Linked DNA regions of Homo sapiens. The protein of the gene in region 4 purifies or fractionates together with the protein of the main gene of each other region. This does not show direct contact. Each region holds a gene or a part of one and is shown on either strand. Other genes may lie near its edges. The genes, in order: CCNYL1, WASHC5, KIF2C, HORMAD2, MCM8, WASHC4 and AVL9.

The links.
Region 1: the proteins of HORMAD2 (region 4) and CCNYL1 purify together in Homo sapiens (affinity purification with mass spectrometry; one large-scale study listed by BioGRID and IntAct). This does not show direct contact.
Region 2: the proteins of HORMAD2 (region 4) and WASHC5 purify together in Homo sapiens (affinity purification with mass spectrometry; one large-scale study listed by BioGRID and IntAct). This does not show direct contact.
Region 3: the proteins of HORMAD2 (region 4) and KIF2C purify together in Homo sapiens (affinity purification with mass spectrometry; one large-scale study listed by BioGRID and IntAct). This does not show direct contact.
Region 5: the proteins of HORMAD2 (region 4) and MCM8 purify together in Homo sapiens (affinity purification with mass spectrometry; one large-scale study listed by BioGRID and IntAct). This does not show direct contact.
Region 6: the proteins of HORMAD2 (region 4) and WASHC4 purify together in Homo sapiens (affinity purification with mass spectrometry; one large-scale study listed by BioGRID and IntAct). This does not show direct contact.
Region 7: the proteins of HORMAD2 (region 4) and AVL9 purify together in Homo sapiens (affinity purification with mass spectrometry; one large-scale study listed by BioGRID and IntAct). This does not show direct contact.

Annotation. Positions count from the first base shown.
Region 1 is NC_000002.12:207,742,640-207,746,139, reverse strand, and holds part of CCNYL1 (cyclin-Y-like protein 1), read right to left. Parts: intron 1-3,500. UniProt on the Homo sapiens protein: Key regulator of Wnt signaling implicated in various biological processes including male fertility, embryonic neurogenesis and cortex development. Activates the cyclin-dependent kinase CDK16, and promotes sperm maturation.
Region 2 is NC_000008.11:125,081,793-125,085,292, forward strand, and holds part of WASHC5 (WASH complex subunit 5), read right to left. Parts: intron 2,231-3,500; 5' UTR 2,107-2,230; coding exon 1,921-2,106; intron 1,467-1,920; coding exon 1,321-1,466; intron 676-1,320; coding exon 591-675; intron 1-590. UniProt on the Homo sapiens protein: Acts as a component of the WASH core complex that functions as a nucleation-promoting factor (NPF) at the surface of endosomes, where it recruits and activates the Arp2/3 complex to induce actin polymerization, playing a key role in the fission of tubules that serve as transport intermediates during endosome sorting.
Region 3 is NC_000001.11:44,753,337-44,756,836, reverse strand, and holds part of KIF2C (kinesin-like protein KIF2C), read right to left. Parts: intron 3,105-3,500; coding exon 3,004-3,104; intron 2,088-3,003; coding exon 1,992-2,087; intron 909-1,991; coding exon 854-908; intron 763-853; coding exon 600-762; intron 1-599. UniProt on the Homo sapiens protein: In complex with KIF18B, constitutes the major microtubule plus-end depolymerizing activity in mitotic cells. Regulates the turnover of microtubules at the kinetochore and functions in chromosome segregation during mitosis.
Region 4 is NC_000022.11:30,100,964-30,104,463, reverse strand, and holds part of HORMAD2 (HORMA domain-containing protein 2), read right to left. Parts: intron 1,028-3,500; coding exon 964-1,027; intron 64-963; coding exon 27-63; intron 1-26.
Region 5 is NC_000020.11:5,967,652-5,971,151, reverse strand, and holds part of MCM8 (DNA helicase MCM8), read right to left. Parts: intron 3,323-3,500; coding exon 3,127-3,322; intron 1-3,126. UniProt on the Homo sapiens protein: Component of the MCM8-MCM9 complex, a complex involved in the repair of double-stranded DNA breaks (DBSs) and DNA interstrand cross-links (ICLs) by homologous recombination (HR).
Region 6 is NC_000012.12:105,110,731-105,114,230, reverse strand, and holds part of WASHC4 (WASH complex subunit 4), read right to left. Parts: intron 3,107-3,500; coding exon 2,967-3,106; intron 16-2,966; coding exon 1-15. UniProt on the Homo sapiens protein: Acts as a component of the WASH core complex that functions as a nucleation-promoting factor (NPF) at the surface of endosomes, where it recruits and activates the Arp2/3 complex to induce actin polymerization, playing a key role in the fission of tubules that serve as transport intermediates during endosome sorting.
Region 7 is NC_000007.14:32,571,989-32,575,488, reverse strand, and holds part of AVL9 (late secretory pathway protein AVL9 homolog), read right to left. Parts: intron 2,380-3,500; coding exon of another isoform or gene 2,291-2,379; coding exon 2,071-2,290; intron 1-2,070. UniProt on the Homo sapiens protein: Functions in cell migration.

The DNA.
Region 1 (3,500 bases), on a different chromosome or scaffold from region 4:
TCTGGACCCCTGGTATTCCTCTAAACCTGCCAAGCAGTTTATGAGACAATTTCATGAATTATTTTACATCTACCAAACATCCTTCAAAGAACTGAGCAAAGTGAACAGCTGAGTAAAGATTTCAGAGGTAAGCTGTAATTTGCTGTTACCTCAAAGGGTTCTCTGTGGAAGAGTATGTCTATATGCTGTTTGAACTCTGTATCAAGACAAAAAGAAATCTTTTTAGGCTGGAGTGCAGTGATGCAATCTTGGCTCATTGCAACCTCTGCCCCCTGGGTTCAAGCGATTCTCCTGCCTCAGCCTCCCAAGTAGCTGAGCACCCGCCAGCACGCCTGGCTAATTTTTGTATTTTTAGTAGAGACGGGGTTTCACCATGTTGGCCAGGCTGGTCTCAAACTCCTGGCCTCAAGTGATCTGCCCACCTCAGCCTCCCAAAGTGCTGGGATTACAGGCGTGAGCCACTGTGCCAAGCCTGAAAAAAGTTCATTTTAACAGAGCTTATTTACTGTCTGAAGGTTATCAGATAGGCAGATCAGATCTGGCAGTGTTCTCCAAACTGGACTGTGTTTTCAAAAATGGATATTGAACATGACATGTTCTTAAGAGAGATTCTGTTCCCTTTCCCCCAAATTCTGCACTCTCAGTATCCTAACAGGGTTCAAATCTCAATGGGAATAATTAGACCACAGGGAAACAACATAGACAATCCCTCAACTTCCTGTTGCCTTTACGGGTAAGCTGGTGATGTGCTGATGCTCACTGATACCACTTGCCCTCCTGTGTCAGTGTGAGAGTTCTTTTCTTCCCACTAAAGCCAACTCCATCAGTGCAGTTGATCCCCTCCCACTTGTGCAGAACACTGTCCCCGCAACTGCGTCTTTTTGAAGGCTTTCTCCTTCTCTGCCAGAGATTTTCCCCAACGTGTTTCCTTTGTTCCCATCCCCCTCCCCACAACTCCCCGGATGTGTCCTCTCATTTGCTCAAAGCATCATGTCCTGGTGTCAGCTTCTCATCTCCCATCTCTCCTTAACCCACTCCTGTTTGTCCCTTGCTGCTGTCACTCTCCTGAGACTCCTCTTGCCAAGGTCCCCAGAGTCTTCACACTTACAAGCCAGAGCTCTTCATCCCACTGCTCCACTCCCCAAGTCTTCCCTAATATTGTACAGGGCATTTCCATTCACCTAGTTGCTGAGACCAAATACCTACATTCAAGTTATCCCACACCAGACTGTGCACAATTCCTGCTATGTCCACCTTCATTGGTAGGCTGCTCGCTTTTGATTCTGAGCTGCCATTTGTCACTGCTCACCTGTATCACCCTCGTTGCTTCTTAACTCTCTTCTCTGCCTCTATTCTGCCAATTATGGCCTACTCTCTTCAAGCCATCAGCATAACTTCTTAAGAGCACTTCACTCCCCTGCTCAAAATCTACCTAAAGTACCCATCAAACTGGAATAAAAACTTCTTCCTGGCCAGGCGCAGTGGCTCACACTTGTAATCCCAGTACTTCGGGATGCCGAAGTAGGCGGATCACCTGAGGTCGGGAGTTCAAGACTAGCCTGACCAACATGGCGAAGCCCGGTCTCTACTTAAAAAAAAAAAAAAAAAATTAGGCGTGGTGACGGGCACTGGTAAGCCCAGGTACTCGGGAGGCTGAGGCAGGGAGAATTGCTTGAACCTGGGAGGTGGAGGTTGCAGTGAGCCAAGATTGAGCCACTGCACTACAGCCTGGGTGACATAGCAAGACTCCGCATCTCAAAAACAAAACAAAACAAAACAAAAAAAACCTTCCTGTGGCCTGCAAGCCAAAAGGCCCTATGTGACCTCAACCTCCTCCACTCTTTCCAACTCACTCCAACCACACGGGACACCTTGCTGTTTGTTCCTTGAACACACACACACACACACACAAAATGTTCCTGTCTAGTCTTGGCACTTGTCTGGCTGCCTGTAATGCCAGCACTCTTTACCTTCTTGCTTTGATCAGGTCACTGCTCAAATGTCACCTCTAGAGAGGTTCTTCCTGATCATTCTATCTAAAATAGTGAGCCCCTCCTGTCACTCTGTATCCCTTTATGCTGCTTCATCTTCTTGCTACTTACCACTACCTGAAAAAATGTCTTCCTCACTAGAACATAAGCTCATAAAGGCAAGAACTTTGTTCAATCTGCCTCTCCTCTACTCTAGCACTTGGTAGCTCACGTCTGTAATCCCAACACTCTGGCAGGATCACCTGAGGTCAGTTCTGAGACCAGCCTGGGCAACATAGCTAGACTCTAGTTCTACTAAAAAATTAAAACAAAACAAAACAAAAACAAAAACAAAAACAAAAAACAAGAATAGTGGCACAGAGTAGGCACCCAGTGAATATTTACAGAATCAGAAACTTCTTGGCAGCATTTAACACTGGGACCATAGCCTCTCTTATCTTGATCTCTGTTCTTTTATTACCTTCTCCTGGGTTTCCTCCTTCCACTCCATCTGGGAGCTTGTCCCTCAAAAATGCTAACAGTCTTTAGAGATCTATCTTCTATCCACTTTCTTTTCTTTTTTTAGAGATGGGGGTCTTGCTATGTTGCCCAAGCTGGACTCAAACTACTGCACTCAAGTGATCCTCCCACCTCAGCCTCCCCAGCAACAGGGACTACAGGTGTGCACTACCATGCCTAGCTTCTCCACTTTCATTCTGCAACCTTTCTCTGTATTTGAACAGCTACTATAACTCTTCATTCCTTACCTCTAAGCTCAGATTCATGCTCCAGTCCGGTACATTCAAATGATTATTGGACACTGTCACTGCTACCTCACAGGCACATAGAGCTTAAACCATCTAAAATGAACTCCCCTCTTCCTGTACAGCTTCCTCTCCTGTATCACCTGTCTCTCTACATCTGGAAGCACCACTCCTGCTTCTCTACAGTATGTGCTAAGTGTTCCAAATGGCTTACAGCTCCATGAAAAGGCCTAAGTCTGATCCAGTACCCACTGAGGGGCTTCTATTCAAGTGCACAGAAGCCTTCTCTCCTAAATTCCAATTGGATGCTAAAGGAGTAGGTACTGACCTAAGTATTCTTTCCCTCCAGGCCATGCAGTTGACCTTCCTCTATAGGTTTGCTGTGGGGAGGAGTAAAACAATCCTAACCACTTGAATAGGATTTATTATTCAATGATAAAATCTTACCATAGGAATTCTGTATGGAGGACATAAAGTTAAGGACACAGCTATAGCTTAGTAAGCTAATCAGCAAAGCCTTTGTCCAAGTATTGCTGGTACCACATTGCTGGGCAACATCACGAGCAGGCACAAGAGGTAGGCAGAGATGATTAAAACCCATCATCCAAGGAACAAAGAATTTAGGGCAATAGTTCTCAATCACCACACATATCGGAAATACCTGGGGAATAGAGCCTGGGACTTGGCTTAGACCTACACTGGAATCAGTATCTGGCTCTGAACCACATGGTTTTGTTACCACTCCCCATCACCCCCAGCCCTGCCA
Region 2 (3,500 bases), on a different chromosome or scaffold from region 4:
ACTAGATTATACATTCTTAGGGAGTAAAGTCGGTAATCATGAAAAATATTGCTTTGCTCACACTTCTTCAAAAAGTTTTAGATTTCAAGGAAAAGGTAGGTTTCCTCCAAGGAGCTCTTACCTTCTTGCCGAATGGGCCTTGAAAAGTTTATGTAAAACAGATTTTAATTCATAGTGATAATTTTTCAGTTGACCTATTTTGGCTATGTTGCTTGGGACACCAAAATAGCAACCCAATATTGTGTATACCTCTTCATCATAAAATCATTCACTTATTCAATCAGCATTTCTTAAATGGTTAGTATGTACTAGGTATCAGGACAGATGGCTGGGATGCAAAAAGTAAAGAAGACAGAATTCTTACACCGAGGAGGCTCATAACTTCCACATAACTTTTAACTGTTTTAAATTCTGTTCAAAGTCTATGTTCTAAACTCAGATATGGACCTGCCAGTTAGAAGATAATTAAAAGCTCATTTCGCTTCTCTTTAAAGAATGGTATTTCGTATATATTTGTGACTTAAAAGAAAAAAAAGTGATACTATGTTTGATATTCTTGAATTTCATTTTAAATAATCATTATTACTTACTAGAAGTTGTTTTCCATCTTCATTGAGAAGCACAGTTTCTAAGGTTTGCTGAATATAAACCCCTTCATTGAGATCATCTAGATATCTAGAAATAAAACCACAGTGCAAGTTATTAATTTATAATAGAAACTTTAACATCTTTAAAGAAGGAAAGATTTTTAAAAGATAAGGCAGGATGCCAGGCATTCTGGCCTTCCACTAGTTCATGGTCCTTCATGCTCTTAAGAATACAGTCTTATAAACTGATTTAGGGCCACAGTTTGATATTTATCGCTGTTCCAAGTAAAAGAAATATTCCCTAGTCCTGATTTGTGAATTACAAGTATCTAGGAGTAAAGGCAGAAGAACATGGAATATCTAGTCTAAAAGTTAATGAGTAATGAATTCTTAAGAAGTGTATTAAGAGACAGAAAGTTAATGATAAAGATAAGTTCTTTTTCCCACTTTTCACATATAATACACTAGGATATGATAATAAATAACAGGATTGGAAACTATATGACTTAGTTAAACTAAGTTTATTACAACACCTCATAAGAGCAGGACATTATAGTAAAACTTCAAAATTCTTAAGATGACCAGTGCCACAGGTAGGAAAAGACAACTATATACAGTATAAACTAAATTAGGAAATTTTGTAGTAACTCAGAGAGATTTACACGTTGCTATGTGTCCTTTTCCCTCTCCACTATTTACTACCAGAATAAGCTATTCCTAAATAGATCAATACCTGTTTAAGTCTACAATATATTTATGTACACTTTGAAATGCTAAATAAAATCTGGTCACAATTTCTATGTTGTTTTCACGAAATTCTTCATCTAAATCCTGTAGCTCTGGCTTAGCATCCAGTTTGCTTTCCCATAATTCTGGACCCTGAGAAAAAAAAACACATGTGAAATGTCAATAAAAGCATACTTGTTGGTGACAATTTCTAAATAGTCTTTTAAAAATTTGTTCTTATGTTATTAGACATCCCAAACTTAAAGCAGAGCAACAGAAAGTAGTGAAGATAATAGAAGCCTAGATATAAAATCCCTTTGAGAGAAATGAATTTGAATTGGACCCAAGATTAGCATGCTTTTAAGTATGGGGCCCTTCAATGTGAAATATCAAAGTTATCTTTTAAAAATACAATTATATTGTGTTAGGGCTTTGACATAATACTTTCAACTTATTTTCAAGTTAGTAGCTAATATTAAGTTTAGTCGAAAAGCTCTTCTCTTTAGCTTTTTCCATAATTCCTTAACCTTACAGAGTTTCATGGTTCCCAGAGAAAACACGCTTTTGTAGAAAAGACAACAATAAAAATGCTATAGAGGAAGATTACCTTAAAATAGCTGAAATCAAATATGATATCTCCATATTTCTGTTGATCAGCTCTGTCTTTTAACCTGAACACAGCAGGAATAAACTCAGAGAGTCTCAAAAGTTCAGCAATGATGGCATTACCACAGGAAACAATCCTTAGGATTGCTTGGCCACAGAGGTTGTTCTCGGCTAGAAAGTCCAACATTGTGAGGCGGACCGACTACTCTGTGCCTGGACACTGGGGATGATTAACTGGCCTCAGAGCTGGTGTCTGTATATTATTAGATGAAACCAGGTGTGCAGAGAGATTGGCTCCTCCATTAAAGAACCTGTATCCCCAAAAAAAGTGTGAAAATCTCAATTTGTTTAAGGAAGCACATGTGTACACATAAGAAACACATTTTTCTCCCAAACTCACTAAAAAAATTTTAAGAAATAATGAGTTCCTTTATAGGGGAAAGGGTGTTTATCTGTCACTCTTCATATTTTCCATGTGGAGGGACTTTGCTAGATTAACACTCTTGGCCTCTTCTTCAACATGTTAGTCACTTCTCTTGAGAAAAAGATATGATACAGCTCATCTCTGTGCTAGGGAGAAGGAACCACTGGGCATGTGTGGTTCCAATGTACCCTGATTATACAAGCTATCTCCTACTATTTGATATATTAGCAAATAATTTCAAACGCTATAAAGAGAGCTCAGAGACAAATCCCTGTACATCATTTTGAGGCATTTGTCCAATTATTTCCCAGAAATGGAACTGCAAGCTTAAGGTAAGAACATGTCCAAGATTCCTTTTAAAATTACAGATGCTAGGTTCTGCAAAATTCTGTGAAGATGATTTATAAATACTAAATCAAACTGGTCCAAAAGTCTCATAAAATTCAGCACTTAGGTATCTAGCACTGTTAGCAGAATCCATTACTTGCTTCTCTTGTATTCCAATGCACTCTCTGAGGATGGTTAGATCACTTAGCATACTGAATATTATCGTTGCTTACAGCTCATTCTGAAAGTTCTTGAAGGCAAGGATTGATCTTTACCCAACCACTCCTTGCTGAATACCTCTTTGCCAGGCTGGATATGAAGATGTTTAAACATCTCACCTTCTAGTCCAGTGGTTCTCAAGCCTGGCTGCTTAAGGGAATCACCTAGCATCTTAGAGTTTCTGGTAAGTAGGTTAGAGGTAGTCCTAAGCATCTCTGTTTTTAAGAATCTCCCCGGATGATTCTGATGTGAAGCCAGGATCATTAAAAGAGTAGAGAATGACTGGTCTTATAGAAAACTGCAGCAGGCAAACAGGAAATTAACAATATTTATCTTTGTGCCCTTTGTGCTGAACTCATTCCTTGGCACTGACAAGTATAAGGAGTGCATAAATAATACTAGGGTTACAAGAGGTGATGTCTGTCCTCTCTAGCTGCCTGCTATACTGCTGGAGATGAGCCCTGAAGAAAAAAAATCAGAGAGATGAAGTGCTTCAGTGTGTCTTTACAATAAAGAAATAAGAAGTGTAACATACATTTAATTGTCAGTATGGAGCATTTATTAGGTGTTCTGTTGGGAAAGGTATTCTTATACTGGGTGATCTTTAGTAA
Region 3 (3,500 bases), on a different chromosome or scaffold from region 4:
CTCACACCTTTAATCCCAGCACTTTGGGAGGCCAAGGCGAGCGGATCACCTGAGGTCAGGAGTTTGAGACCAGCCTGACCAACAGGGCGAAACCCTGTTTCTACTAAAAATACAAAATTAGCCAGGTGTGATGGCAGGCGCCTGTAATCCCAGCTATGTGGGAGGCTGAGGCAAGAGAATCGCTGGAACCTGGGAGGCGGAGGTTGCAGTGAGCCGAGATTGTGCCCCTGCATTCCAGTCTGGGCAACAAGAGCAAAACTCCGTCTCAAAAAAAAAAAAAAAAAAAAAAAAAGCAGATAGAGCAGATCTGGAGTTCCCCAAATCTGTGAACCCCAGTGGGCAATGGTGTGGCTGCATAAGGCACAGAAGAACCCCTGGAGCCTGGCCAGCCCTGCCTCAGCACGTAACGGGTGATACCTCATTCAGTATCCACTCAAGGATGGGCCACTAAGCTGCCAAAGGGTGTGACCCAAAGAAAACACAAGAAGCGAGGAAGAGCCTCAGAATTCAGCACGTCTGTGAGTAGTGTTACCACGATGTCCCACAAAAAAAGGGGATGGAAGGGCACAAGGAGGGAAAAATGGATGCAAGGGACTAACCTGTAGACAACTTCATTCGAAGCTGTTTCATCAAATGCAAAGTCAAAGCAGAATGCTTGGTTCTCCAGATACTTTGTTAAGTCCACTTTCAACTTGGGTTCATGTACCAAGAGGAGACACTTGCTAGGAATGGAAATCACATCAATTTCTTTCTTGGCCAATTCTGCAGAAGGAGAGTATTTCAGGGGGTGCTCCCTGGAAACAGAAGGCCCATTAGTCAGTCTGAAGCCTCTTCCTGACTGAACAGGACTTACCTTGCTTATTCAGTGGGCGTTTCCTAACACAGACACATATTCTGTGCTCTTCGATCTGCAAGCGGATGAGAGGAGGCAACCAACAGCAAAGGGTCAGAGCAATTTCAAAAGCGAGCTTGTCCAGAACTCCCACCCCTTCCAATCCCATGTCTGGCCCAGTCAGAGGCCAAGATCTAACACTAGGACCCCTGCATCCTCCATTAGATACTCCAGAGCACAAGAAGGGAGCACTGGATTTTGTTCCCATTTTTCTCACTCTGCTGCCTACAAGAGTTTCAGCACTACTTTCATGATTTTTACTAATGCAGGAATCTAGCCAACCTATGGTATGGGGGTGGAACCCAGTTTATAAAGATCAGACCCCTCCCCATGTGGGCCTCACTAGCTTCAGCCCACCAAAGGATATTAAAAAATAACCTCGGCTGGGCATGGTGGCTCACGCCTGTAATCCCAGCACTTTGGGAGGCTGAGGTGGGCAGATCACGAGGTCAGGAGTTCGACACCAGCCTGACCAACATGGTAAAACCCCATCTCTACTAAAAATACAAAAATTACCTAGGCGTGGTGGCACATGCCTGTAATCCCAGCTACTGGGGAGGCTGAGGCAGGAGAATCACTTAAACCTGGGAGGTGGAGGCTGCAGTGAGCCAAGACCATGCCATTGCACTCCAGCCTGGGCGACAGAGCGAGACTCTGTCTCAAAAAAAAGTAAAATAAAATAACCTCAGCCAGGCACAGTAGCTTACACCTGTAATCCCAGCACTTTGGGAAGTCAAGGTAGGCGGATTCCTTGAACCCAGAAGTTCCAGATTGGCCTGGGCAACATGGTGAAACCCTGTCTCTACCAAAAATACAAAAAATCAGTAGGGTGCGGTGGAATGCATCTATGGTCCCAGCTACCTGGGAGGATGAGGTGGGGAGGATCACTCAAGCCCAGGGAAGTGGAGGTTGCAGTGATCCAAGATCGTACCACTGCACTCCAGCCTGGGTGACAGAGTGAGACCCCATCTCAAAAAAAAATAATAATAAAACCCTCAAAGGTGAGTAAAGATTCCTGCATGCCCTCATTCCTGTAAAGAGAAGTTTTCTGTCTCTCAATTGTACACTTAAGAAAGAGAAGTTCTTTGGATGTACTTACAGGATCAGTCATAGTAAGTGGATGACATTCCAAAGTAGCCCGAAATTCTTTAATCATTCGGGCAAATTCCCAGTTTGGAAAACTACTGTCATACTCCTGGTTTGAGACGAGAGTGAAAAAGGGCAGACTGTTAAGATATAAGTGCTCTCAGACCCCTATGCGGCAGCAGCAACAGCTCTTTGCTCACCACCCTTCATAGTTGTCAAAGTCCCTGCCCTGGCTCTGGGTTGAGAAGCCAGGTACAAAGCACTGGGGAAGAGATTGGCAGAGGGGCCTAAGCATACGCCAAAGCACGCTAGGAACTGGAACTAGGGCCAGTTCCACATTTTAGGAGGCACAGCAGATCGGGCTTCCCAGAAGCAATGAACCCAAATAAGGGGACTGTACTGCAGTCCCTGCCCTCCAAATACGTACAACTTGGGGGAGGATAGGAGAGAGCAGACCAATTGTGCCCTGCAGCCCCTCTGGCCATCACGCCATGTGAGCATGTGATGGGCTTGCTTACTAGACAGTCAGCATGAAATGTTCCTCATCTGAGGGCCTTCAGAAACATTTCTGAATTATTTGTTCTCTGAATCCTGATAAACCAGTTAAATTTCCTGGATATCAGAATTGGAGCGTCAGAGGCCAGGCGCAACAGCTCATGCCTACAATCCCAGCACTTTGGAAGGCCAAGCATTCCAGACCAGCCTGGGCAAAATAGCGAAACTCTGTCTCTACTAAAAATACAAAAAATTAGCGGCACATGCCTGTAATCCCAGCTACTTGGGAGGCTGAGGCCCAAGAATCACTTGAACCCAGAGGTGGAGGTTGCAGTGAGCCGAGATCACACCACTGCACTCCAGCCAGGGCAACAGAGCAAAAAAAAAAAAAAAAAAAAAAAAAAAGAATTGGGGCCTCAAGAACTGGAGCCTCAGAAATGCTGGGGCCCAACTGTATCTCTGTTGCCCGTAGAGTTTCGGTTAAGGACACCTGTCCAAAAACCCTTACCCTAGTCTCCCAAGAAAGGTACCTGAGCTCTCTTCATTCTCATTTCAGAGTTCTGGGCCTTCTTCTCTTCTCGCTTGTTCTTCATTTTTTCCACTTCCTTCACAAGACATGATTTCCTCCGAACTATGAAAACATAAAAAAAAAAGAAAAAAAAAGGAAGCCCACTCTGTTACCAGTTTAAGCCAGCCTACTCTTCTCTGGCTATTTACTGAGTACTGGGCCTTTCCCAGGGAGAGGCCTTCTCTAGATCCTTACTCTTAAATCACTATATGCAAAAAGAAGTAATAGATGTGACTCTCGGGATGGACAAGTCCACAAAGTAGTGGCCTGGCCAATATGAAGTCAAATAGTGATAACTGCACTCCAGTTCTAACCCAAGCTCTTCCTATGCATCTTGGCTACTTTCTCAACAACCACAGAAGTGAAACAGTTCTTGTTTTGTCTTGATAATGAAAGACTGATTCCATGGCCAGAGGAAAACATGCCCCCACGTGACAAACAGGGCTTGAACTCAGGTGC
Region 4 (3,500 bases):
CAGTGTAAGTGTAAAAACATTCTTACGTATCTCTTTTCCAAAGCATCAAAACAACCTTGAATCCTGTCAAGAAATAAATGTTTGATGTCAATTGGACCATATGCAAATCCAAAAAAATTCCAAGTACAGAATTCATTTGCACTTTTTGCTTTGATGTACATTAAGTTGATAACCATCTTACCTTTCCCATTTAATCATTTTTTTAAACTTCCAGCAACTTTTAATATGATGATAGACCTTTATAAGTAATAGTGAGCTATTTTGTGGTAGTGAACCAAATTTTTTTGGATCCCATGTTTAGTACACTGACACACATATGATGAATTATCAATTTTTAAAATCTGTGTGGGTACATAATAGGTGTATATATTTAATATTTTATCACAGTTTTTATTTTTATACAAGTCAATTTTCTTTCAAAAAGCTAAATCAGTGTCTTAAAATTATATTGAATAATTCTTACAAATTCCTAGAAAATTATTTTTAAAAAGAAAGAGGGAAAGTAGGTCAGGGCAGTGGCTCACACCTGTAGTCCCAGCACTTTGGGGGGCCAAGGTGGTTGGATCATGAGGTCAAGAGATCGAGACCATCCTGGCCAAGATGGTGAAACCCTGTCTCTACTAAAAATACAAAAATTAGCTGAGCGTGGTGGCATGCACCTGTAGTCCCAGCTACCCGGGAGGCTGAGGCGGAGAATCACTTGAACCTGGGAGGCAGAGGTTGCAGTGAGCCGAGATTGCGCCACTGCACTCCAGCATGGGGGACAGAGCGAGACTCCATCTCAAAAAAAAAAAAAAAAAAAAAAAAAAAAAAATCAAAAACAGAAAAAGAAAAAGAAAGAGGGAAAGTAGAAAAGAAGAAATGGTTTTTTAAAAAATGATCTTACTAAATAAAGTCTTATGGGTAATTTCAGCCATGATAAAAATAATGTTGTTCAACTTTTATAGAATTTCTATTACTTACCATCTGATAATATGCAGTGACCCGGGACATTTTTTATCTTCTCGGAGGATTTTTAAACTGAGGTCTACAAAAACAGAAACACAGTCTATTTTTATCTACTAAATGACTGCTGTACTGAAATTGTCCATGCTAAATAGGGTATTTCCTTTAACTATTTTATTTATGTAATTTATTTAGTTTTATAGCTTATAAAAACATTTTGGATCTCTAAACATCTACTTTAAAAATAAATCCTATGTTAAGAAGTAGCTTGGTCTCAATTTCGATTACAGTAAGGATTTTCCCCCTTCTACAATGTAGCACAACTGAGTTGGCTCCAAAATCAATTTGTGTCCTTTCTTTGCCGCTGTAGAATTCTAAGTAATTATGAGGTAGTATTGAGACTATCTCCATTGACCAACTTAAAATATACACCTAAATATCAGTCATTTCCCTGTTATTTCTCTCCCTCTCATTGAAAAGGAAGGAATAAAAAATTTCACACGGATTATTCTCAAATATTTATTTTATCCGAAATCTACCTTTTTATACTTAAGAAGAATAGGAATATCATATTAAGAGTTTGGGTTTAGGCCGGGTGTGGTGGCTCACACCTGTAATCCCAGCACTTTGGGAGGCTGAGGCAGAAGGATTGCTTGAGCCTAGGACGTCGAAACCAGCCTGGGCAACCTAGTGAAACCTCACCTCTAAAAAAAATAATTAAAAAAATTATCTGGGCATAGTGGCACATGCCTATACTCCCAACTACTCAGGAAGCTGAGGCAGGAGGATCACTTGAGGCTGGAAGGTCGAAGCTGTAATCCTGTAATGATCATGCCGCCACACTCCAGCCCGGACAATGAAATGAGACTCCCTCTCAAAATAAATAAATAGAGTTTTGGTTTAAAGTAGTCCAAGATCAATCACTGATTTATGTGTGATTTTGCATAAGCAACTTCACCTTTTCGTATTGTTTTCCTATACTAAAATTGATGTTACCTGTATCTCTATTGAGGGATATGAAAATTATCCCATGTTGATATAACATTCAGAAATTACAAGAGAGTGACACAGGAGTATTAAGCATTTTTATGATGTATATTACTTTAAGAACAAACATTGAAAGGGAGACATAAAACTTCCACAATAACTGTCACAAAAAATAAAGCTATAGGGAATGGTATCATTGCCGTTGCCTAGGGTAGTGACTGGCACACAATATGTGCTTATTATCAAAAATATGTCTTTCTCAATTCTATGTTCTAGACAAGAGGGAAAATTACAAATATATGTTAGATATAAACACATTCACTATTACAAGTTTGTATCTCATAGACCAAAAGATGTCATAATACAAATGAGGTTGTCATGATTGCAAATATCATGTTTATGTGCTTATAGCACACATGCATTTTATTGATGCTCTTACATTACTTAAGATAATTTTTTTTTTTGAGACAGAGTCTCACTGTATCACTCAAGCTGGAATTCAGTGGTGCAATCACAGCTCACTGTAGCCTTAACCCCCCAGGCTCAGATGATCCTCCCACCTCAGCCTCCAGAGTAGCTGGAATTACAGGCACTCACCACCATGGCCAGCTAATTTTTTGTATTTTTTATAGAGACAGGGTTTCACCGTGTTGTTCAGGCTGGTCTTGGATTCCTAGGCTCAAGCAGTCTGCCCACCTTGCCTTTCAAAGTGTTATGGTTACACTTTGGATTACAAGCCTGAGCCACCATGCCCAACCAAGAGAATTAGACTGAAATGAGGCCAAGGTATATCATTAAATACAGATGTAAGAAATTTAAAATTAGATTTTGAAAAATAACATCTTACAAGGCAACTTGTAGCTCTCTATGTTTATTTTCCAAATGACAGTTCCTATTTTAGTGACAAGTCAACAAGATTCACAATCCAGCTTTTTTTTTTTTTAATACTTTAAGTTCTGGAATACATGTGCAGAAAGTGCAGGTTTGTTCATGTGCCATGGTGGTTTGTTGCAACCATCAACCCATCATCTAGGTTTTAAGCCCCACATGCATTAGGTATTTGTCCTAATGCTATTCCTTCCCTTGCCCCCCACCCCCCTACAGGCTCCAGTGTGTGATGTTCCCCTTCCTGTTTCCATGTGTTCTCATTGTTCAACTCCCACTTATGAGTGAGAACATACATAACACAGGTTTTCTGTTCCTGTGTTAGTTTGCTGAGAATGATGGTTTCCAGCATCATCCATGTTCCTACAAAGGACATGAACTAATTATTTTTCATGGGTACATAGTTTTCTATGATGTATATGTGCCACATTTTCTTTATCCAGTCTATCATTGATGGGCATTTGGGTTGGTTCCAAGTCTTTGCTATTGTAAATAGTGCTGCAATAAACATATGTGTGCATGTGTCTTTATAATAGAATGATTTATAATACTTTGGATATATACCCAGTAATGGGATTACTTGGTCAAATGGTATTTCTGGTTCTATATCCTTGAGGAATTGCCACACTGTCTTCCACAATGGTTGAACTAATTTACACTCCCACCAACAGTGTAAAAGCATT
Region 5 (3,500 bases), on a different chromosome or scaffold from region 4:
TCTGTTTAAATGGGTGGGGGGCCTTGGAATTTTATTTTTGGTTTACAGGTTCATGCCTGTAATCCCAGCAAGCACTCTGGGAGGCCAAGGTGGAAGAACTGCTTCAGCCCAAAAGTTCAAAACTAGCCTGTGCAACAAAGTGAGACCCCGATATCTATAAAAAAAAAAATTAAAAATTAGCCAGCCATGGTGGCATACACCTTTAGTCCTAGCTACTTGTGAGGCTGAGGTGGGAGAATAACTTAAGGCCAGGAGTTTGAAGCTACAGTGAGCTCTGATTGTGCCACGGCAATCCAGCCTGGGCAACACAGCAAGACCCTGTCTCTAAAAAAAATTAAGAGAAAGAATATAAAACAGTACATTTACATTTGTCAATTTTATAAACAAGGAACAAACAAAAATAGGGTGGGAGAGAAAATCAGGAGTAAAACATGAGTCTTTATTCCCTTTTAATATATGTAAACACAGAAGGAGGTGGTGGTGTGCTCATATCCCCTTGGCACTCACTGTTCAGTATGTTCCGGCTTCCTACTGGCATCTGCACCTGTCTGCCAAAGACCTTTCTATGGCCACACAAGCATCATTGGCAGGCAGGATGGGCAGGCCAGAAGTGCTGAGGTGTTTAATACTCCTGGGGGCAGTCCCAAATGTAGGCCCTTAAATGGAAAAATACTGAAGCTGGCTTTCCACAGTGGAGTTTTCCACTGGCCCAGGAGGATTATGTCCCAGATGCTAGTGGGTCACCTGTTCGTTAAGGCACCTACACTGGCTGCCATCATTTCCCTACCAGTAACTCCAGAATCACCTCCCAAGTAAACTATGTTGATCCAAATCATTGCTTCTGAAGGAACCTAAACTAAAACATAAACTTCTACTGTCACCTAGGCTGGGTTGACAAACTTTTTCTTAAAGGGCCAGAAAGTATTTTCAGCTTCACAGGCTATACTGTCTCAGTCACAACTATTCAACTTGTAGTGTGCAAGCAACTGTGAACAGTAATGTAAGTAAACTGGGTGGGGCTGTGTTTTAATAAAATTTGACTTACAAAAACAGGCAGCCTGCCTAGTTTGCCAATCTCTGCTAGACTGATAATAGAGGACCATGAAAAATTCTAGTTTTGATGCTGAAATCACAAACATGGAGGGGGAAAAAGCAAACTGTGGGAAGAAAACTAAAGTTTTCCATACTTACTCTTCTATAAGTATGGGAGAAGAGGGACCACTAAAAATGTTCAGTTTTAATTTACAACTGTTAAGAGGAACCAAAGATGTTTGGATTGTCGACCAGGTTGCTTCCTTGGCCACCTGCTCAAAGGACTCACTCCAAGACCACCCCAGCAACGCTAAGTTAGAGCAGCCTCTCTTCCAGGGTGGGTCTGAATGGCTTTTATTCAGAGGGAAGTAGGATTTAAGGACAAAAAACCCCTGTGGAGCACTATTCTTTACTCAGTCAGCTAATTAACATATTAAAGCCAGAAAGAAAAAGCATCAAATCCTCTTACAGACCTGAGCCTACTGAACAGAAAAGCATGACAAAATCACTTTTTTTTTTTTTTTTTGTGAGACAGAGTCTTGCTCTGTTGCTCAGGCTGGAGTGCAGTGGCGCGATTTCAGATCACTGCAACCTCCGCCTCCCAGGTTCAAGAGATTCTCCTGTCTCAGCCACCCAGGAAGCTAGGATTACAGGCACCTGCCATCATGCCCAGCTAATTTTTCTATTTTTAGTAGAGACAGGGTTTCACCATATTGGTCCGGTTGGTCTCGAACTCCTGACCTCAGGTGATCCACCCGCCTCGGCCTCCCAAAGTGCTGGGATTACGGGCTTGAGCCACTGTGCCTGGCCAAGATCACTTTTTATAATACAATGCATTTCAAAACGTTCTCAGTTCTTTACCTCTCTTAGATATATCTATTATTCAGTCTCTCTCATTTTCTCCTATTTCTTCAAAATTACCCCACAGTTGTCAAAAAATTATCAAAAGTAACAGTATGTTGCAGTAGTTATGTTAAGTACATTATAAAATCCCACTTAATCTTTAGAACAACCTTCTGAGGTAAGTCTTATTATTTCCATTTTAAGGTGATACAAATAAAGGGGAAATTAAGTAATATGTCCCAGATCACACTGGAAGTAAATGCCCAAAGCAGGAGTCTAACTTAGGTTTGTCTCCAAAGAAAAGCTCTTAACCACTAAAGCAAAAAATGCCTATACTTTGCTGCTTCTCCACGGCATGGCAATAGCATGGAAATAAAATTATCAAATACTTTTTGAATATATGTTAATTCGATTTGAATCTCTATGAGCAACACCCTACACAGAACTAATTGAAATGGCTTTGGAATTCACTGTTCCCTCACTCTTCCGTTGAGTGACAAACTTCTTGTATAAGATAGTAAATATTCTGTATTGTTTAAACTAGAGATCAGCAAATTTTTTCTATAAAAGGATAAAGCAAAAATATGTGAGCCATATATATGTTCTCTGTCACAACTATTCAACTCTGCCACTGTAGCACAAAAGCAGCACACTTATGTAAATGAATGAGTGTGGCTATGTTCCAATAGAACTTTATTTATGGACACTGAAATCAGAATTTTTTTTTTTTTAAAGACAGAGTTTCACTCTTGTTGCCCAGGCTGGAGTGCAATGGCACGATCTTGGCTCACTGCAATCTCCATCTCCCGGGTTCAAGTGATTCTTCACTTCAGCCTCCCGAGTAGCTAGGATTACAGGCGCCCGCCACCAAGCCCGGCCAATTTTTGTATTTTTAGTAGAGACAGGGTTTCACCATGTTGGCCAGGCTGGTCTCGAACTCCCGACCTCAAGTGATCCGCCTGCCTCGGCCTCCCAAAGTGCTGGGATTACAGGCGTGAGCCACCATATCCAGTTGAAATCTGAATTTCATATAAGTTCATGTGTTGTGAAATATTCTTTTAATTTATTTCAACCATTAAAAAATATAAAAACCATTCTTAGTTCATAGGCCATACTCAAGGGGATGGAGTACTGTATTTGGTACATGGACTGTAGTTTGCCGACCATTTTGACTAGTTTTTTGTTACCTGTAGCCAAGAGAACCCCCAACATGCATCTATGTAATAAAATTTCAAATGACAGCATACATACTTGACAATGAGTTTAAACAGGTTTTCTTCAGCTTGAATCTCTTGGATGGCATAAAGGTCTTTAAGTGAGAACTCCATCAACATTCCATGCTTACACCCATCCTCAGAACTCTTTGTTTTCTGTCCTTTGCTATTACTAATAGAATTTGCTTCAATATACAAAAGGAACATACACTTGTCATTCTTATTTCGAGAACCTGTAAATTAAAAGTGTTAAATACAATAGTTGGTATTTTCATTTTCCCTACAATGACTCAACTAGAATATAAAACAAAGTCATAGGGAGCTACAAATACATGTTTTTTTAAAAGGGAATGTTTCATCTTATGTAAGCAACAAGAAATTCCTCAAATTATTTGAGGTTCAGGAGCATCT
Region 6 (3,500 bases), on a different chromosome or scaffold from region 4:
TTCATAAGGCAAAAGCTACAGAAACAAAGGAAAAGAACATTTCTTTTAATTTGAAAAATAACTGAAATTTTAAAAACACAAATTGAGGCTAGCTTTATTCGACTTAAACTTGTGTTAGATCCTGTACTCAACATTAGCACCATATCAACTACTTCATCCAAAACAATCTCATTAGACAACACGTAAGGAAAGAAATGGCCCAACATGACACAATCACGACTCTACTTGTCCTATGGAGCATAAGGTGGCTGATTATGAGTGCAGTATAAGAAAATGCAAGGTAATAAGGTAATAGTAACATTATTAAACTCCATTAGTTATGATCATGGGGAAAAACCTTTCATCATTTTTGAATTTTCTATGCAGCCACAAATTTAATAAGATATTGTAGCTAAAGGGTCAAAATAAATTAAGAATGAAACAAGACAGAAAATACATCTTTTCTTGTATAAATCCATGCTCAGAAACACTTAAAATAGTATGTGGAGTTCACTCCTAAAGCCCGTTCAATTTCCACCTCTTCCTGATCATTGACTATATGTGATCTATTTATCAAGTGAAATCTCAGATCTCCCTTCTGGTTACATACTAACTAACTATTTATGCAAGTAAGTTATTATATACCCTTTCTCATTAGGTTGTAATTTTTGTTTACAGAGGTTTTATCTGAGTTTGTGGTTTTTCCCAAAATACTAAGAACCTTGTATAGTAAAAACAATAAAATAACTGCCCAATAATAGAACTTAAACAGAGGTTCCGAAGAGAGCAACTGCGGAGATGGAGTCTGTCATATAATAAGATTGTAAAGATTAGAAAGCTTCTGTAGGGGAAGATAAAAACTAAGAGATGATTTCACCCTTTTATAAAATCTGAGAGTTGAGAAAAAAAACAGATTTTATAATCCTATCTAGAAGAGGCCCTTAAAGCCCAACAGCAAGTCTTAAAAAAATCAACAAGTATTACTTAATGGCGAGAAAGCCCAACAGCATCTGTTTAAAAAATCAACATGTATTACTTAATGCCAAGTGACAGATATATGAAACTTATTACCCTCAGAGATAGTACAGGTTGAGAATGACAGTTTCCTAGTAGAGTTCCTATAACTTACATACAATGATTCTCACAGAAGTGTTGAGGAACAAAAAGAGACAATTACAAATTTGGGGGGGGATGATTTTTAAAGTAAGACTAAGTCTATCCAGCCTGCAAGAAAAGAAGTCAAAGGAAAGTAATTTCAGTTTACAAATATATAAAGTATTTGTGAGGCAGTTCAGGGTATTGGATAAGGGCACAGGCTCTGGAGTCAAGCTGCCTGATATTCATTATTTAACTAAATGTGTCACTTACTTGACTAAGTTACTTAACTTTTCTATGCCTTAGTTTTCTCATTTACAAATGGAGATGACATTGTATCTACTTTATAGGATTGTGGTGGGAATTAAAAGTCAATACTTGTCCTATAATGCAATACTAAAAAGATAACCCAATTTAAAAATGGGCAAAGGATGTGAACAGACATTTCTCCAAAGAAAACAGACACATGGCCATAAGCACATGAAAAGATGCTCAACATTATTAGCCATCAGAAATGCAAATCAAAGCCACAATGAGCTTTCACATTCACTAGGAAGAATATAATCAAGACAATAAAGGCTGGCAAGGATGTAGAGAAACTGGAACCCTCATGCAGTGCTGGTAGTAATGTAAAATGGTATAGCCATATTGGAAAACATTCTGGCAGTTCCTCAAAAAGTTAAACATAGTTACCACATAACCCAGGATTTCCACTCCCATATATACATATGTATAAAATATACACACAATGTACACACATTTTATATACAATATACTTATATATGTCTACACAAAATCATGTGCCCAAATGCTCATAGCAGCCAAATAGTAGAAAAATCCAATGTCTATCAACTGATGAATGGATAAATAAAATGTGGTTATCCATTCCTTACAATGGAATATTATTCAGCAACAGCAAAAAAAGAAAGTACTAAAAACATGTGACAACATAGATGAGCCTTGAAAACATAAGTTAAAGAAGCCAGCAACAAAGGAGCACATATCGTATGATTTCATTTATATGAAGTGTACAGAGGAGACAAACACATAGAGATAAAAAGTAGATTGACTGGTGGTTGCCTAGGGCAGGTATGCCATGGCATGAACTGGGGGTTGATTATCACACGGTACATGGTTTCTTTTTTGGGGGCTGAGAACGTTCTAACATTGACTGTTGTGATGGTTGTACAACTCAGTGAATATGCTAAAAACAACTGAATTATACAATTTAAATGAGTGAATTGTATGATATATGAATTATATCTCAAGAAAGCTGTTATAAAAACAAGTCAGTGTGTGACTTAGGACAGTGTGTAATACACAAGTGCTCAATAAAATGTAAATTATTTTTCAAGTGGTAACAAACTAATTTTAAAGATAAAAGAAATATTTCAAAATGGAAAGAGTAATGTATTTTATACATTAAAAAATTACTCACACATTAACATCTATATAGCATGAGAGAACTTTTCAGAAATGGTGAAAATATTCTCTATCTTAATTGGGATATGAGTTACAAGTGTTTGGCAAAATTAAGAGTATCTGCATTTCACTCTATGTAAAATAGTCTCAATCAAGAAAAAACAAAGCCTGAATATTCTATCCAGCCCTCATTTTCTTAATAATGAAAATCAAAGGCAAGCTCAAAGACTTGGAGTTTGTGTCATTCTTTGACACTAAAGGCTGTGTGTTTGTCATTCTTAAACAGAAAACACACACATTTAAAAAACATCTGCATGGCTTAGAGAAAAGGAAATTAACAATTTTCTCCAACTTTCATTTTGTTCTTAGATTTCAAATAAAAATACTTTTTCCATTTTAAAAAATTATGTTTTCAGGATATAGTATGTCCAGAAAATATATACATATATTTTTAAAAAATCAAATCAAACCTTTAATGCTATAGGATCAAGATTGAAATCCCAAACATCTCCAATTGAGTCATCCAGAGCGTCCTCAATTCTTCTCAGTTGAGAGGTATACTCCTCAAGAAATTTCCCATAATTCTTAAGTTGGACTTCGGCATGAATTTCTAAGTTTAAATTTTAAAACAGTATGTGATAAGTGCAAGTAATGAATTGCAGGACATTTACTTCAAATAACCTCAAAAGTCACGCAAAGCACTGTTAATTATTACTCTGGAATGTCTGGACTTCCTGAAAATAAAGTTCCAAAGTTAAACAACAATTCAGCTTTCAATCTTCTCTATACACGAAATAATTTTAAAAGCAGTAGATGTTACCATATATAAAGTTACTACCTTAAAACCCTAACATATTATGAAAAAGCCACTAGCCCATCTACCCCCATAATAGAGGGCTTTGAACCAATCTGAAAAGTGCCTTAAACAATTCAATGTCCTGATTCTATCTTTTAGTCATGAACAACTCTTTTGCAAAAACAAATATTCATGATCTGAAGGTGAA
Region 7 (3,500 bases), on a different chromosome or scaffold from region 4:
CTTTCAGTCATGATGTTCTCTCCTTTGGACTTTATTTGGTGTTTCATTCTTGAATTTCCTAGCATTTCACTGTCAAAAACACTTAAAAAAGGCCAGGTGCAGTGGCTCATGCCTGTAATCCCAGCACTTTGGGAGGTCGAGGAGGGCGGATCACTGGAGGTCAGGAGTTCGAGACCAGCCTGGCCGACATGGCAAAACCCTGTCTCTGCCAGAAATACAAAAATTAGCCAGGCGTGGTGGCGGGTACCTGTAGTCCCAGCTACTCGGGAGGCTGAGGTAAGAGAATCACTTGAAACCAGGAGATGGAGGTTGCAGTGAGCCAACATCATGCCACAGCACTCCAGACTGGGCAACAAGAGCGAGACTCTGTCTCAAAAAACAAAACAAAACAAAACAAAAAAAGTCTTAAAAGAATATACTGAAAACTGATAAAGTTTTCAGCTTTATCAATACCATGGGAAAGCATCCATATGTGTTTCCTCCGCTTGGAAGATTAGAAATGGTTTGGAGAACTGATACAAATGGCTATTACTTCATATATTAATTGCATGTTGTTTACTTTGAAGGTGAAATACAAAGTACCTTTTGTTGCTAGGAAAGGAAATGAATGAGATACACAGTTCCATACACAGCATAAAGAAGTTGTTCTAAGAACACTTCCTCAAGCAGTTCATTGGGCTGAATTTCCTCTTTTGACCTTGTTACTTGTAAGAGTATGGGCCTAAGCCAAACTGTTTGGGATCAGATCCCACCTAAGCCTCTTATGAACCTCTGTGAGCTTCATTTTCTCTTCTGTAAAAGGCAATGACAAGGTCCCTACCTTCAGGATTGCTGTAAGGATGAAATGAATTACTAGATGTAAAGTGCTCAGAACACTGGTCCCTGCATATATTTAATGTTCAAAAAAAAAAGTGAGCTACTATTATTCAGTGCTTACAGCCTCCTGGGCAAATATTTTTAAAAAAGCAAATTAATTAATTTGCTTAAAAGCAAATTAATTAAGCTACATGGCAGTGGAGACTGAAGTTTTCTTTCTAGATTACCAAATGATTTGGGGTTAAAGGATTTAATTTTGGTGTCTCAGCTGCTACATTGTTAGTGGTGGCAAACATTTAAAAATATCTCATTAACAAACGAGGGCTTGTTCCTCAGCTGTCTTTTACAAATGAAAAACTCTCCCGAAACCTACTTTAAAACTCCTATGTGCACTGTAAACAACTAACCTGGGAGCATGTGGTGGTGGTGTTGATTAAAAAAATCTACTGATACAACAATGAATGTATCTAATGCCACTGTGGAACTGTACATTTAAAAATGGTAAAGATGGTAAATTTTATGCTATGTGTATTTCATCACAATTAAAAAAATAATGGTTAGTTAACTGAAACAAAAACACAAGCTCAACACATTTTTAACAACTCTAATAAATATCTGCCAAATGTCCAAGGTGAAAAGCTCACTGCAGAGCTCCATTTTCACTATTTATATATTTCTTTCCCAAGGAGAATGAGATAGTTTTAATGCAGGAGTAACTCCATGTTTACCTGCTCCATTTTAACCATTTAATACGAATAATAATATTTCTTAGAATGGGTTATAAATTTGAAGATTTAATCATTTACAACACGATTTTCAATGATTTCTATTTTTTATATTCTTTCTCCCTTTATACATCTTAAAAAACATGTGGCAGTATTCACAAACAGCTGCCAAATACTGATGAATATGAAGCAGTCATGTAAAAGTGATGATATATGTTCATGTTATGTTGGTATGTGTTGTTTCTATTATAAAGTAATAGTTTCAGAAAACATGTATAAAGGGATCCATTTTTGTAAAAGGACCACCAAAAGTACCATAAAACCAAAATCCAAAATACATGCATAGGAAAAGATTTGCAAGGCTATAAAGTACTAAAGACGTTAAAAGTGGCTATCTTTGTATGAGGGAATAACTGGTAATTTTTCTATAAGGAATATGTATTTATTGTGCAATCCAAAATCTCATAAATGTTACAAAATGAAAAATTATAATAAAACAGGTAGCTGTAGGCTCCGTGTGGTTTCTTACCTAATTGCAGTGTGGCAGCCAGCAGGGCATGAATGTAGACCGCAAACTGGGCCCGGATCCATTCGTCACCTCCCTCCCAGCCCGTGCCATCTAGGAAGACGTCATCCCGATTCTCAGTCACGTGCCTCACTAGGTAGTCTGCGAACCTTAGGTCTGCAGTGGTTGGGTTAAGCAGCTTCCTGAGTTCTGGATCATGGATCTGGATCAGAGCTTCTTCTACCTAGAGGGTATCCAGGTACAAGTCAGAGTCTGGGCATTCACGCAGACATCCATGCCACACTTTACAGAGTAACTACGGGGAAGGTGGAGCTGGAAATAAAAAATATGAATAATGGCATTCTCAAAAGGTGAGTCTAAGAAAGAGGTTTGTACACTGAAGTTTTCTTTCTATTTATAAAATGCTCATTTTCTGTTTTTAGAAAATACACACATAAATATAGTATTTTAAATTACAAAATTACTCACCTAGATTGCAAATATTTGGGAAAATATAGAAATACATGTAAAAATCACCTTTATTTCACTAGCAGAAATGAACACATTTAACAAGTATAATTCCTTAAATACTTTTTCTTTTGCGTGCAGATACTTTAGAATATTCTTTTTTTTTTTTTTTTGAGACGGAGTCTTGCTCTGTCGCCCAGGCTGGAGTGCCATGGCACAATCTTGGCTCCCTGCAAGCTCTGCCTCCTGGGTTCATGCCATTCTCCTGCCTCAGCCTCCTGAGTAGCTGGGACTACAGGCGCCCACCACCACGCCCGGCTAATTTTTTGTATTTTTAGTAGAGATGGGATTTCACCATGTTAGCCAGGATGGTCTCGATGTCTTGACCTTGTGACCTGCCCACCTCGGCCTCCCAAAGTGCTGGGATTACAGGCGTGAGCCACCATGCCCGGCCAGATACTTTAGAATATCTTATTATGTAATATTTGATATACTAAAAAATACATGTAACTTACAGGTTAGTTTTGAAGTATAATAATAAAAGAAATTCCTACGAACCCACCAACCAACTACAGAACTAGAATGTAACCAATAATGATGAAGCAGCTTTATGGTCCTCCCATCTGTATCCTCCTGTCTTGGAAAATGTATATACTTTTTCTTCTTCAAATTTGGGATTATAATAAATACATCTTTGAATCCTGGACTTTCATTATATTATAACCATTCACCCAAGAAACATGTTTTCATACTTTCTGTCAGAAACTACAAAAACCTCAGTGTGGCTGAATTTTTTTTTTTTCTTTTTTTTTTGAGACAGAATTTCACTCTATCGCCCAAGCTGGAGTGCAGTGGCACGATCTCGGCTCCCTGCAACCTCTGCCACCCGGGTTCAAGCGATTCTCCTGCCTCAGCCTCCCGCGTAGCTGGGATTACAGGCACCTGCCACCATGTCCAGCTAATTTTTGTATTTTTAGTAGAGATGG